Linked DNA regions of Homo sapiens: region 2 is linked to region 1. A link means that fine-mapping ties the variant in region 1 to the expression of a gene that starts in the linked region. Tissue or cell type: whole blood. Region 1 holds a variant in brackets; the other region holds the start of a gene. All regions are shown on one strand. Distances are between the middles of the regions.

The links. PIP is the estimated chance that this variant, and not a neighbour inherited with it, causes the effect.
Region 2: ERCC8 starts here. The variant in region 1 is fine-mapped to the expression of ERCC8 in whole blood (INTERVAL, PIP above 0.99).

The regions. Positions count from the first base shown.
Region 1 is chr5:61,193,648-61,201,755 of GRCh38, reverse strand. All of the region lies in intron 3 of SMIM15-AS1 (SMIM15 antisense RNA 1), which reads right to left. Among named protein-coding and RNA genes, the nearest start is that of SMIM15, 35 kb to the right of the region's middle. The variant T/C (reference allele first, on the strand shown) is at 3,888.
Region 2 is chr5:60,941,763-60,949,853 of GRCh38, reverse strand. It overlaps ERCC8 (ERCC excision repair 8, CSA ubiquitin ligase complex subunit), which reads left to right and starts at 4,784. Exons shown (of 12, transcript NM_000082.4): 1 at 4,784-4,922. The coding sequence starts at 4,846. NDUFAF2 (NADH:ubiquinone oxidoreductase complex assembly factor 2) reads right to left here and starts at 4,649. Exons shown (of 4, transcript NM_174889.5): 1 at 4,472-4,649. The coding sequence starts at 4,598. RefSeq lists an enhancer at 3,884-4,013.

The sequences.
Region 1 (8,108 bases):
TGTTCCATGCAAACTCATCTTTCATTGTTGTTGTAAATACTTTTGTTTCAGGGTGCATCTGAGATCAATGGCCAAAGAAAATGGGCTCTGAACAGTGCTTCACTGTCACATCCAGGATCTGGAAAGTTGTATTTGAGTGCTGGGTTTGATATACGTTAACTAGAAGATAAAACATGCCGACTATGGCTAGCAGACACAGTGCCCCATCATGCCTGAACAAAAAGATATTTTATACCAGAAGTGCGGAACAGGATTTTTTGCAGTTTTGCTAGAATCCTTGTCACAGTGCTTAATAATGTTACATCATTTAGATAATAATTTTTCTAGTTTTCAGTTTACCTAATAGTACGTGTTCAATTATTTTATGGAGCTTTTTCAATCAGAACAACATCGTACCTGTCTTTTCAGTGTATTATTCCCAAATAAAAGTTTAACCTCTTTTCGGAATCTTAGGACTGTGCACTATAGCCATTAGTTTTATAAAAATCTGTGCTGGGGGAGGGGCCAAGATAGCCAAACAGAAACAGCTGCTGTCAGAGGCTCCCACTGAGAACGAAAATGGCAAGTGAATCCTGTACCAGCAACTGAGGTATCCAGGTTCTTTCACTGGGACTAACTAGGCAGTTGGCGTGACCCACGGAGAGCAAGGAAAAGCAGGGTGGAGTGATGGCCCACTCAGGAGCTGCACAGGGGAAGGGGAGCTCCCAACCCCAGCCAAGAGATGCGGTGAGTGATTGTGCTACACGGCCTGGGAAAACCACACATTTTCCACAGATCTCTGCAACCCACAGATCACGATACCCCCTCTCATGAGCCCACACCACCAGGGCTTTGGTTCCCAGCACAGAGCTGTGCAGGTTCTCAGCGGACATTTCGGCTGGAGGCTGACTAAGACTACCAAGTTCCCAGGGGCTTGGGCGGCTGTCATCACTGCAGCTGCTTGCTGCCTAAGACCAACTGAGCTCCCAGGGGGAAGGGTGGCCATTATCACTGTGGCTTCCTGCTGCCTAAGATGACTGAGCTCCCAGTGGGAGGGGCAGCAGCCACCACTGCAGCTCCAGTCTGCTGGTTTTCCCCTGTGGATGCTGGGGAGATTGGGTGGTTTGGACCCAGGAGGAATTCCCCACAGCACAGCACAGTGGCTGTGGCAGATCATGGCCAGACTGACTCTTTAGGCCAGACCCTTACCCGTCCCTCCTCAACCAGTGGGGCCTCCTTGTGGGAATTTTAGCTACTCAGGCCAGGGGTTTATAGTCAGAACTCACATCTCCCTGGGACAGAGCCTCGTAGGGGAAGGGCAGCCATGGTCTCTGCGGATCAGCAGACTTAGTCTTTCCGCCTGGTGTCTCTGAGGAGTCAGGGCAGTCTGGATGAGTGGGATTTCCCCAGCACAGCACACCCTCTCCACTGAGGAGCAGCTAGAGTGCTTTGTTAAGCGGGTCTCTGATCCCATGTCTCCTGACTGGGTGAGACCCCCACAACAGGATATGCCAGACGCCCTATACAGGGGCATTCCCACTGGCATCAGGGTGGTGCCCCTCTGGGACAGAGCTCCCAGAGGAAGGAGCAGGCAGTCTTCTTTGCTGTTCTGTAGCCTCCACTGGTGACACCTCCAGGTGTGGGAGGGACCCAGGCAAACAGGGTCTGGAGTAGACTCCCAGCAAACTGAAGCAGCCCTACAGAAGAGCATTCTGACTGTTAAAAGAAAAACAAACAGAAAGCAACAAGAGCATCAACAAAAAAGTCCCCACAAGAACCCCACTCAAAGGTCAGGAGCCTCAAAGATCAAAGCTAGATAAACTCAGAAAGATGAGAAAGAATCAACAACAACAACAAAAAATGCTGAAAACTCAAAAGGCCAGAGTGCTTATTCTTCTCCAAGTGATTGCAATACCTCTCTAGCAAGGGCACAGAACTAGGAGGAGGCTGAAATGGATGAATTGACAGAAGTAGGCTTCAGAAGACGTGTAATAATGAACTTTGTTAAGCTAAAGGGGCATATCCTAACCCAATGCAGAGAAGCTGAGAACCATGATAAAACATTACAGAAGCTGTTAACCAGCATAACCAGTTTAGAGTGGAATATAAATGACCTGATGGAGCTGAAAAACCCGACACAAGAACTTCACAATGCAACTGCAAGTATCAGTAGCCAAATAGAACAGGCAGAGGAAAGAATTTCAGAGCTTGAAGACTATCTTACTGAAATAAGACAGCAGACAAGAAAACAATGAAAAGGAATGAACAAAACTTCCGAGAACTATGGGATTATGTAAAAAGACTGAAACTACGACTGATTGGGGTACCTGAAAGAGACAGGGAGAACGAAACCAAGTTGGAAAACATACTTCAGGATATCATTCAGGAGAACTTCCCCAACCTAGCAAGACAGGTTAACATTCAAATTTACAAAATCCAGAGAACCCCATTAAGATACTCCATGGGAAGATCAATCCCAAGACACATAATCATCAGATTTTCCAAGGTTAAAATGAAGAAAAAAAAGCTAAGGGCAGCCAGAGAGAAAGACCGGGCAACCTATAAAGGGAAGCCCATCAGACTAACAGTGGACCTCTCAGCAGAAACCCTACAAGCCAGAAGAGATTGGGGGTCAACATTCAACATTCTTAAAGAAAAGAATTTCCAACCCAGAATTTCATATCTGGCCAAACTAAGTTTCATAAGTGAAGGAGAAATAAAATCCTTTTCAGACAGCCAAATGCTGAGGGAATTTATCACCACCAGGCCTGCCCTGCAAGAGCTCCTGAAGGAAGCACTAAATATGGAAAGGAAAAAACATTACCAGCCACCACAAAAATACACTGAAGTGCAAAGACCAATAGCACTATAAAGGAACTACATTAACAAGTCTGCAAAATAACCAGCTAGAATCATGATGACACAATCAAATTCACAGATAACAATATTAACCTTAAATGTAAATGGGTTAAGTGCCCCAATGAGAAGACACAGAACGGCAAGCTGCATAAACAGTCAAGACCCATTAGTGTGCTGTATTCAAGAGACACATGTGCAAAGACACACATAGGCTCAAAATAAAGGGATAGAGGATAATTTACCAACCAAATGGAAAGCAGATAAAAGCAAGGATTGCAATCTTAGTTTCTGACAAAACAGATTTTAAACCGACAAAGATTGAAAAAGACAAAGAAGGGCATTACATAATGGTAAAGGGTTCAATTCAACAGGAAGAGCTATTTTAAATACATATGCACCCAATAAAGGAGACCCTAGATTCATAAAACAAATTATTAGAGACATACAAAGAGACTTACACTCCCACATGATAATAGTGGGAGACTTTAACACCCCATTATCAACATTAGACAAATTATTGAGATAGAAAATTAACAAAGATATTCAGGTCTTAAACTCAGCCCTGGATCAAGTGGACCTGATAGATATGCACAGAACTCTCCACCCCAAAACAAGAGAATATGCATTCCTCTCAGTGCCACATGTCACGTACTCTAAAATCGATCACATAATTGGAAGTAAAACACTCCTCAGCAAAAGCAAAATAATCTTTTTTTTGATGAACTGAAATCACGACAGTCTCTCAGAACACAGCACAATCAAATTAGAACTCAAGATTAAGAAACTCACTCAAAACCACACAATTACATGGAAATTGAACAACTGCTCCTGAATGACTCCTGGGTAAATAATAAAATTAAAGCAGAAATCAAGAAGTTCTTTGAAACCACTGACAACAAAGAGACAATCCACCAGAATCTCTGGGACATGGCTAAAGCAGTGTTAAGAGGAAAGTTTATAGCACTAAATGCCCACATCAAAGACTAGAAAGATCTCAAATTGACACCCTAACATCACAATTAAAAGAACTAGAGAATCAAGAGCAAACA[T/C]ACCCCAAAGCTAGCAGAAGACAAGAAATAACCAAGATCAGAGTGGCACTGAAGGAGAAAGAGACATGAAAAACCCTTTGAAAAATTAACAAATCCAGGAGCTCTTTTTTGAAAAAATTAATAAAATGGATAGACTGCTAGCTAGACTAATAAAGAAGAAAAGAGAAGAATCAAGTAGACACGATAAAAAATTATAAAGGGGATATCACCACTGACCCCACAGAAATACAAACAATCATCAGAGAATGCTATAAACACCTCTATGTAAATAAACTAGAAAATCTAGAAGAAAGGGAGAAATTCCTGGACATATACACCCTCCCAAGACTGAGCCAGGAAGAAGGTGAATTCTTGAATAGCCCAATAATGAGTTCTGAAGTTCAGGCAGTAATAAATAGCCTACCAACCAAAAAAAGTCCAGGACCAGACAGATTTACAGCTGAGTTCTATCAGAGATACAAAAAGAAGCTGGTACCATTTTTTTCTGAAACTATTCCAAACCACTGAAAACCCATTTTATGAGGCCAGCATGATCCTGATACCAAATCCTGGCAGAGATACAACAAAAAAGAAAACTTCAGGCCAATATCCCTAATGAATATTGATGCAAAAACCCTCAATAAAATACTAGCAAACCAAATCCAGTAGCACATCAAAAAGCTGATCCACCACGATCAAGTCGGCTTCATCCCCAGGATACAAGGCTGGTTCAACATACACAAATCAATAAACATAATTCATCACATAAACAGAACTAAAGACAAAAACCACATGATTATCTCAATAGGCGCAGAAAAGGCCTTTGATAAAATTCAAAATCCCTTCGTGTTAAAAACTCTCAATAAACTAGGTATTGATGGAACATACCTCAAAATAATAAGAGCCATTTATGAGAAACCCACAGCTAATATCATATTGAATGGGCAATAGCTGGAAGCATTCACCTTGAAAACAGCACAAGACAAGGATGGCCTCTCTCACCACTCCTACTCAACATAGTATCGGAAGTTCTAGCCAGGGCAATCAGGCAGGAGAAAGAGATAAAATGTATTCATATAGAAAGAGAGGAAGTCAAACTGTTTGCAGATAACGTGATTCTGTGTCTAGAAAACCCCATCGTCTCAGCCCAAAGATTCTTAAGCTGATAAGCAACTGCAGCGAAGTCTCAGGATACAAAATCAATGTGCAAAAATCACAAGCATTCCTATATGCCAACAACAGACAAGCAGAGAGCCCAAACATGAATGAACTCCCATTCACAATTGCTACAAAGAGAATACAGTTAACAAGGGAAGTGAAGGACCTCTTCAAGGAGAACTACAAACCACTACTCAAGGAAATCAGAGAAGACACAAACAAATCGAAAAACTCATCGATAGGAAAAATCAATATCATGAAAATGGCCTTACTGCCCAAAGTAATTTATAGATTCATTGCTATTCCCATTAAACTACCATTGACATTCTTCACAGAATTAGCAAAAACTACTTTAAAATTCATATGAAACCAAAAAAGAGCCCATATAGCCAAGACACTCCTAAGCAAAAAGAAGAAAGCTGGAAGCATCATGCTACCCAACTTCAAACAAAACAGCACGGTACTGGTACAAAAACAGACACATAGACCAATGGAACAGAATACAGAACTCAGAAATAAGACTGCACATCTACAACCATCTGATCTTTGACAAACCTGACAAAAATGAGCAATAGAGAAAGGATTCCCTATTTAATAAATGGTGCTGGGAGAACTGGCTAGCCACATGCAGAAGCCTGAAACTGAAGCCATTCCTTACACTTTATCCAAACATTAACTCAAAATGAATTAAAGACTTCAATGTAAAACCCTAAATTATAAAAACCCTAGAAGAAAATCTAGGCAATACCACTCAGGAGATAGGCACAGCCAAAGATTTCAGGATGAAAACATCAAAAGCAATTGCAACAAAAGCAAAACTTGACAAATATGATCTAATTAAACTAAAGAGCTTCTGCACAGCAAAAGAAACTATCATCAGACTGAACAGACAACCTGCAGAATGGGAGAAAACTTTTGCAATCTATCCATCTGACAAAGGTCTAATATTCAGAATTTACTTGTAAATTAAACAAATTTATAAGTAAAAAAAACTGCATTAAAAAGTGGGCAAAGGACATGAACAGACATTTCTCAAAGGAAGACATTTATGTATCCCACAAACATGAAAAAAAGCTCAACATCACTGATCATTAGAGAAATGCAAATCAAAACCACAATGAGATACCATCACACACCAGTCAGAATGGCCATTATCAAAAAGTCAAGGAACAACAGATGCTGGTGAGGCTGTGGAGAAACAGGAATGCTTTTACACTGTTGGTGAGAATGTAAATTAGTTCAACCATTGTGGAAGATGGCATGGCAATTCCTCAAAGACCTGGAACCAGAAATACCATTTGACACAGCAATCTCGTCACTGGGTATATACCCAAAGGGATATAAATCATTCTATTGTAAAGATACATGCATGTGTATGTTCACTGCAGCACTAATCACAATAGCAAAGACACGGAATCAATCCAAATGCCTATCAATGATAGACTGGATAAAGAAAATGTGGTACATATACACAATGGAATACTATGCAGCCATAAAACGGAACAAGATCATGTCCTTTGCAGGGACATGGATGGAGTTGGAAGCCATTATGTTCAGCAAACCAACACAGGAACAGAAAACCAAACATCACATGTTCTCACTTATAAGTGGGAGCTGAACAAGGAGAACACATGGACGCAAGGAGGGGAACAACACACACTGGGGCCTGTTGGTGGTGGGGGTGGAGAGCATCAGGATAAATAGTTAATGCATGCAGGGCTTAATACTTAACTAATGGGTTGATAAGTGCAACAAATCACCATGGCACATGTTTATCTATGTAACAAACCTGCATGTCCTGCACATGCATCCTGGAACCTAAAATTAAATTAAATTAAATTCAAATAAAAAAAATTAAAAAATCCATGCAGATGAACCGCACATACTTTCTTCAGCTTTTTTTTTTTAATTGAAAGCAGGCATAGCATACTTTTGCCATGTGAAAAAGAGTAAAGGAATTGGCTGAAAACCAATTGGTTGAAATAATAGATTAATTGATAGGATAAGTTTTAGGCAAAGTATACTCAGATATGAGTTTTCATTATTTTGTACTACATATTTCTTTTATTTTTAGTTAGTTCTGATATTGTTTAAAAATTATTTTTAATTTTTATTTTAACTAAATTTACCGATTTTATAAGCAGTTTAGGGAGTCAAACAACCTTAACAATCTTGTTATAAATAAATATCAACTTATTTTCTCACTCCCAACTCCACCACTGTACCTCCAGGCAACCATTTTGAACCCTGGTAGCAGATTCTCTTTCTTTACGTTTTTACTTCAAATAATGATTATTATATGATTTCTTCACTTTTCCATTTTAGCCATTATCTGCTGATTTCCCAGTATAGAAGATGAAGATTTGCTTATCTTTTGCATCCTGTTCATCCACATAAATACACACTTTTAATTTTAAATTTTGGCTCTATGGACAATTTTAGTTAGATCACCATTCAGTATTCATTCACATTACTTAAATGCTATCCTCACCTGTGCCACATAATATACTATATTTCCTTTCCTGCATAAGTTTTTTCTTTTTATTGAAACTGAGATACACAGATTTGGATTAATTATAATTTATAACATATACTTATCATTGGTTTATGTATGAACTTCTTTTAGTTATAATATTTAACTAAAATATTTAAATAATGTAATTAGCTCCCTTGACCCGACATCTCAGATGAAACCTAGAGACTTGGAAATAACCTTCATCTACCATCTTCTCCTCACACACAGCCTATCTTGTTTTTATCATGTCCTTACTTACCTTTTTTTTTTTTTTTTTTTTAATCACTCTTGCTCAGGCTGGGATTACAGGTGTGAGCCACTGCACCCGGCCCTTACTTTCCTTTTTATATAACTTTATTGCATCTACATATATTCCTACATATAGGGATACACAGAGTTAGTAGATGAAAAGTATGTTTTGGACCTCCCCCAAAAAAGTCATTATATGAAGAAGACATGCACACATATATATAGCAGCACAATTCACCAATTGCAAAAATATGGAGCCAACCTAAATGCCCATCAACCAATGAGTGGTTAAAAAAATGTGGCATATAGGACAGGCACGG
Region 2 (8,091 bases), 250 kb after region 1:
TCATTTATAATAACAATACAATATAATATACTTTATAATAAATTTAACAAAACATATCATGATCTCTATGCTGAAAACTACAAATCAGTGATAAATTTTTAAAAATGACCAAGTAAAAGGTCTCTGTGAATTAAGTCAAACTGATTTCGACATTAAATCCCATTCTCTTAAATGCTACGTTATCCAATTTGTCTCTCTTGAGTAGCAAAAATACTTTGTGAGGCTAAGTAGGTACTGTTATTTCCGTTTTACAGAGTAAGCTGGAGCTGCTATGGCCAAGCACTCACACTCTTAGGTATGTACTCATGGAAAATGAAAACTTATGTTCACACGAAACCCATATGTGAATGTTTCTTGCAGCTGTATTCATAATCACCAAAAACTGCAAGTAACTAAACTCAAATGCCCTTTAATGAGTAAATGAACAAACTGGTACATCCATTAACATGGAATACTAATCAGCAGTAAAAAGGAGCAAACTACTGATATACGTAATGAATCTCAAAGGCATTATGCTGAATAGAAGAAGCCAGGTTCAAAAGGTTACATATGGTATAAGTATACATGTGGGACAGTCTCAAATGGAAAAAAGTATAATGGCAGAGAACAAATCAGTGGTTGCTGAGGTTAGGGATGAGGAGAGATTGTAACTACAAAAAGGTAGCATGAGGGAGTTATTCAGGGTGACGGAACTGTTCTGTATCCTGATTTTGGTGTTGGTTACATGAATCACATGTGTTCAAATTTATAGAACTATACACCAATTTTAAAAGTTAATTTTACTGTATTTTAAAAATAGAATCTAAAAAAACCAACTAATAGCAAACAGAAAACTAAAGAAAAAAAATGAGATACCACAACACACCTACTAGAAGAGCTAAAATTAAAAAGACTGACCATACCAAGTGTTGATAAGGATATAGGACAACTGGAAATCTCATACACTCCTGGTGGGAAGGTAAAACGGTACCACCACTTAGGCAGTTTCTTAAGAAGTTAAACATACACCTAACAAGTTGACTCAGCCATTCCATTTCTAAATATTACATCAAGAGAAATAAAAACATAAGTCCATACAAAGACTTACACATGAATGTTCATAATTTATTTGTAATAACCCCTAACTAGAAACAACCCAAATATCTATGAACAGGTGAATGGATAAACAAATTATGGTATATACATACAATGGAATATTACTCAGCATTAAAAAGAAATAAACTACTGATAAACACAAAAACATGGATGAATCTCAAAATAATTATGCTGAGTGAAGAACCTAAAAAACAAAAAAAAAAAAAAGCAGAATATGTGCTGTATGCTTCCACTTAAATAAAATTCTAGCCAGGCGCACTGTCTCACATCTGTAATCCCAGCACTTTGGGAGGCCGAGGCAGGCAGATCACAAAGCCAGGAGTTCAAGACCAGCCTAACCAACATGGTGAAACCCCGTCTCTACTAAAGATACAAAAAGTTAACTGGGCAGGGTGGCACACATCTCAGTTACTTGGGAGGCTGACGCAGGAGAATCACTTGAACCTGGGAGGCAGAGGTTGCAGTAAGCCGAGATAGCGCCACTGCACTCCAGCCTGGGCGACAGGGCGAGACTCCATCTCAAAATAAACAAATAAAAATAACTAAATAAAAATTATAAAAAATACAAACTAATGTATAGTGTCAGAAATCAGATGAGTGCCTATCCATGGAAGCAGAAGCATAAGGCAAGACTAGAAAGGAGCACAACAAATTGTTGTGGATATTGAATATGTTAATTTTCTTGACTGTGTTGATGGTTTCACAGATATATACATATGTCAAAACTTACCAAATTATACATTTTAAGCATGGGCAATTTTTTTTGTCAATTATACTTCAATAAAACTCTCAAAATGCAATTACAATTATGTAAGAAAATATACAAATTAGTGAGAATATGTAAAAATAAAATATTCATGTTATTGTAGAATAGACATGACTGTTAATTTGAAACTTTAATGGTATTGTATCTCTATATAAATGAATGATACAAAAACTGGTATAAATATATTTGTTTGTTGTTTTTTGGGCTTGTTTTTTTTTTTTTTTTTTGAGGTGGAGTCTCACTCTGTCACCCAGGCTGGAGTGCAGTGGTGTGATCTCGGCTCACTGCAACATCCGCCTCCCAGGTTCAAGTGATTTTCCTGCCTTAGCCTCCCGACTAGCTGGGATTACAGGCGCGTGCCACCATGCCCAGCTAATTTTTGTATTTTTAGTAGAGATGGGGTTTCACCATGTTGGCCAGGCTGGTCTGGAACTCCTGATCTCAGGTGATCCACCCACCTCGGCCTCCCAAAGTGGTGGGATTACAGGCATGAGCCACCGGACCCAGCCATAAATGGATTTTTTAATGGGCAAAAGGTTTGAACAATACTTCACCGAAGATCTGTAGATAGTAAATAAGCACATGAAAAGACTGTCAACATCCTCAGGCATTAGGAAAATGAAACTTAAAATCACAATGAGATACCACTATATACCTATCAAAATGGCTAAAATAAAAATAAAAACACACCCAAAAATCAGATAATACTAAGTGCTGGTGAGGGTGTGGAAACAACTAGAATTTTAATGCATTGCTGGCAGGAATACAAAATGGTACAGCCACTTTGAAAAACAGTTTGGTAGTTTCTCATAAAGTTAAACACACATTGATCACACAACTTAGTAATCCCACTACTAGATATTTACCCAAGAGATATGAAAACTTACGTTCACACAAATCCTGTATGGGAATGTTTGTAGAGCTTTTGTCACAATCACAGAAACTGGAAACATCCTAATGTCCTTCAGCTTGTGAACAGATAAACTGGCAAACCCATACAATGGAATACTACTGAGCAATAAAAAGGAACAACTACTGACACATGGATGAATCTCAGCTACATTATGCTATGTGAAGCAAGCCAGACTCAAAAGTCTAAATCCTGTATAATTCCATTTATATGATATTCTAGAAAAGACAAAACTATAGGCCCATAAAACACATCAGTAGTTGCCAAAGGGTGTGGGAATGAACTACTAAGGAGTTGGAGGAAATTCTGATGGTGATGGAATTATTCTATTACTTGAATCCAGTGAGGTTACTCTACTCATTTGTCAAAAACAATAAAACTGTACACCATAAAGGGTGAATGTTACTGTATGTAAATTATATTTCAATTTAAAAAAACTCAGTCTGACAGTTTGCATATTTTTAATTTTACTGACAACTTATGGAAAAGAAACATCTCTCTGCTTGCAACCTGTCAAGAAATACTTAACACCATGCTATGTTCTTTGCAGGCTTTTTTCTTTTTTTGTGAGACATATTCCCTGCCTGACAGAGGAGCTCATTAGGGAAACAAGTCTAAATATTAAAATAAGTTACAGAAAAAGGCCAGGCAAAAATAAATTAATTGAGTGATAAATCACAGAATACATTTTATATGTGTGGGAAATGAATGGCACATAATCTTGGAAAGGTCTTAGTGCTTCTCAACATTGCTGATCTTATATTATCTCTAACTTTCAAGTGAGGATGTTGAGACTTGGAGAGGACAAGTACTTTTTCCGTGATTCCCGAGCTATCAGGTGTCAAAGCTGAGATTCTAACCCACGCCTCTTCGCCCAAAACCTGACATTTTCTGCATGCGGCGATGGAACAACACAGAAGAGGTTACGACGGCGGCTACACAGTGTGATTTCAATGGACAGCAACGCCTCCTTACTCCCCAAACAACCCGCTCAACTACTTGGCACGAATCCTACACAGTAACACCATGATTATTGCCACGTTTCTTAAATTGAGCTCAACGGGGTCTTGGAATGTCAACTCCCGAGAAAGGAATCAGCGAGCCTTGTGGGGATATGGACCTACTTCTGACAAGTCTTGGTAGTAAGGAAGGCGCATGGGGCCAGCGCCGGAGCCAGGGTGCCACCGAAAAGGGTAAACACCAAGAAAGAAGACAGCCGAGGCGCTGAAGATACTCCTCTTCAATTACACCACTCAGCTCTGGGTCACAAGGCGGGGAACAGCGTACGAAAAACCCCTCCCCTGGCCCTTCTAGCCCCTTTGGTGAAAGATTTCCGTGGACTTTTCCCTGCCTCCGTCGCCAGTCCAGGGCTAAAACTGAGGCTCCTCTACAGGCGTGGCTGGGAGGAAAGTGGTGGTGCGCCTTAACAGCGCAAGCAGCCCGGGGCACGCCGGGGGAAGGCGCTGGGTAGTAGGGACCGCGGACGCACGAGGCCGGGCCAAGGCGCCCAGAGCCGGGCCGGGTAGGGCTCCGATGCCAGAGTGAAGGGGTCGACAGGGGAGAACGAACTCGGGAAATTCTCTCCGGTGACACCCTAAGTGTCGCATGATGCGTTAGTTGACTAGGGGCTCTCACTTTTCCCTCCTTTACTGACCTCGCAATCACTGACCACGCAATCGCTGCCCACGCCGCCACCTCACCTCTCCAGTTCTTGTACTGCGGGATGTAGTAGTATTTGTTCCCGAATTGGTCCGTGCCCACGTGCTCCTTCACTTCCCTTGACAGCGATCTCCACAAGGCGCGGAACAAATCCTGAGACCAACCCATGCCGTCCACCCAGTTTCCAGCGCTGCCAGCAGCGGGACCCGCAGTAGGGGTAATGCTCCAGCCGCCGACCCAGCCCACCGAGGCGGAGAAGTCAGGTCGGCCTCCATCCTGGAGCCCTTCTAGTAACGGCGCTCACCATTGGCCGGATATATCACCGACTGACCAATGGGAGACTCTGCTGTTCCAGTCCCGCCCCTGAGCTCTGTCATGGCGACGTCCAGTGCTCCAGCCGGTGTGAGGACACGATATGCTGGGGTTTTTGTCCGCACGCCAAACGGGTTTGGAGGACCCTCTTCGCCTTCGGAGAGCAGAGTCAACACGGAGGTAAAGAAAACCTTACTTTTTGGCTAACAGGCCAGTTAGAATCTGGACCAATGACTGTAAGCTTTGCCCCACACTTTCCCGTCTCATCGCTCTCCTGCCACCAAACTATTATTTGCCCTCTAATGCTGTGTGGCTTGCTAAAATAGGATCCCTTTTATTTACTGGTAACAACTTGCAGGCGGGGGGCGGCGGGGGTGGGGGGGGTTCCCCGGGGGTGGGGGGGGGGTTCCCCCGCGGGCTCAGGTGAAGACACTATAAACCTAAATAAGAATACTTCGTTGTACTGTATTCCTTCTCTCTTAAGTTACTCCAAAGAATAACTGCCCTCCACGGACTCGTTCATTCATTCAGTCTGCATATTTAGTGAATTCCTACAGTGTGCCAGGCAGCCTATTAAAGGCAGAGGACACAGGCCAGGAATTGAACAAAGTTCAGAATGACTAGAGCGGAGAATTGGGGTAGGGACCATTGACAAGAGATGAAGTAGACAGAAACTAGATGAGGAAGAGCCTTGTGTACTTGAGTAGAGGTGTGAAGATGAGAATAAGGTAACAGCTATTGCATTTTGTTTTCTGCTTGGAGAATGGGTTGCAACTGAGAACAAGAGTGGGAGCCAAGTTAGGTAACTGTTGTGATTACACTTGTCCGGGAGAGAGTTGTTGGAAGCCTGGGCCACAGAGTTGCCAAGTAGAATAAAGATAGTGGAGAGATTTGAACAACGTCTGAGAAATAGAATCAACAGGCCATGGAAATTGAGTGGATACGTGAATGACAAAAAGAGAAGAATGAATAATGATTCCCAGATCTATGCCTTGTATAAGAAGTTGAATGTTGGTAATATACTCTGAGAGAGGGTTTTCCAAAGGGAAGAAGCAAGTTGTACTTTTAATTTTGCCCACATTAATTGAGGAACCTGTGAAGATATTTACTTGGAGAACACAGTTGCTTATGAGTTCTGCGTTCTGGAGAAATTTAAATATTAGTTTCCAACATTTTATCCATTACGTTTTCAATGTTGTGAAATATCTCTGAGAGTTCCTTTAATGTGTTTTTTTTGCCAGTGTCACTTCCTCTGACACATCATCAGCCTTTCATCACAATCACTTTTCCTCATTTATGTCTATAAGTTCACCTTCACTGATTTCCTCAGTCTGCATATCTAGAATGTCTCAAATGGCGGCAGTGTCATTGTTGCCACAATCAGCATGTTCCCACAGGCAGCTTTTTTTTCATTTGCTCCATTTATGTTTAATGCAAGTTTCACTTCTAGTATTATCACTCTTCTTTAGTGCACTTTCATTCTTTTGGCCAATTTCCTCTTTTAATCTGTAAAATTCCATGTGGGTTTATCTCAAGGGCACAGAAATATTAATAACAAACCTCCATGCTTTGCAGCCTGTGTGTGAACTGAATAACAGATGCACAGTGACCAATCACCCATAGACTTTGAAAGAAGTAAAATTGCAAATTGGTCAATTTTGATTCATATGTTATTTATGTAATGATTTGTGAACTGAAAAGCTAGTAGCAAACTTTTATGCTATTTCTCACGGTTAATAAACTGTGGTAACTGAAATTCATATCAGACTGTGCCAAGTGAGGATTGCTTATACGTTTAAGACAAATAAAGTATTTAAAAATTAAAAAAATATTTTTTTTTTGAGGCAGGGTCTTGCTCTGTCACCCAGGCTGGAATGCAGTGGTGCAGTTACAGCTCACTGCAGCCTCGACTTTCCAGGCTCAAATGATCCTCCCATCTCATCCTCCTAAGTAGCTGGGACCACAGACATGTGCCCACACACCTAGCTAATTTTTAAATTTTTCGTAGAGATGGGGTCTCCCTATGTTTCCCATTCTGGTCTTGAACTCCTGGGCTGAAGTGATCCTCCTGCCTTTGCCTCCTAAAGTGCCGGGATTATATGTGCGAGCTACCACACAGCCTAAAATTTTTTTAAAAATATTTCCATCATTAAGTGATGTTTTTGCTTAAACAATTATATAGTTCCATTTTATTCATAGGAGATGTCTACTGTTCTTCCTTGTCATCATGTAAGAGCAAAAGGATGAACACTGATATGCAGTGTTCACAGTTTACACCCTCTAAAAAAACATTTTACAACTTTATTGAGGTATAATTGACATGCAATACCCTGCACATTAAATGAGAATATACAATTTGATGAATTTTGACATATATTTACTTTTGAAACCATTACCATAATCAAGAGAACATCCATAACCCTAAAAAATTTTTGACGGTCATTTATAATCCCTGTCTCCCTTCTTTCTCTGCTTTACCCTCTTCCTTCTCTAGAAACTACTAATCTGCTTTAGGTCACTATAGATTAGTTTGCATATCTAGTATTTTATATAAATGGAATCTTTTTTGTCTGGCTTCTTTCACTCAGCATAATTACATTATTTTGAAATTTCTCCATGTTATTGCATGTATCAATTCCTTTTTTTTGCTGTGGAGTATCCCACTGTGCAGATATACCACAGTTTATCTAGTCACTTGTCGATGGACATCTGAGTTGTTTCCAGTTCAGGACTAATACATTTACAGCTGCTCTGAAAATTCATGTATGAGTCATTGTATGAACATATGCTTTTATTTCTCTGAAGTTAATGCATAACAGTGGAGCTACTAGATAAATCCTTTACTTTTTAAGAAACTGACAGTTTTCCAAAAGCATTTTCCAGTCCCACCACTAATAGGTGAGAGTGCTAGCTGCTCCATATTTATGTTTCCCCTTTCCTGCTTTCATTTGACTGTTTGAACATTATTTAGTATTCTATTTTATATACTATGGTTTTGACTATATCTTTTTGTATAATTCTTTAGTGGCTGCTCTAGGAATTATAAAATACTTACTTTTCGTTGTCTACTTCGGATCATTTCATTGTTTTACTGCTTCATTTGGCATATAGAAACCTTATCACCCTTTCCCCTGCACCATATATATATTGTTGTCTTATATTTTATATTTACATACATTATATACTCTATCAGACATTATAATTTTTTCCAACCATCAATCATATTTTAAGGAAAAAAGTAGCCATTATATTTAACCAGATAGTTATTTCTGTTGCTGTCTCTTTATTCCTGATGCCTCAAATTTCCTTCTTATATCTTTTTCTTGTCTCTGAAGAATATAGTTTATCA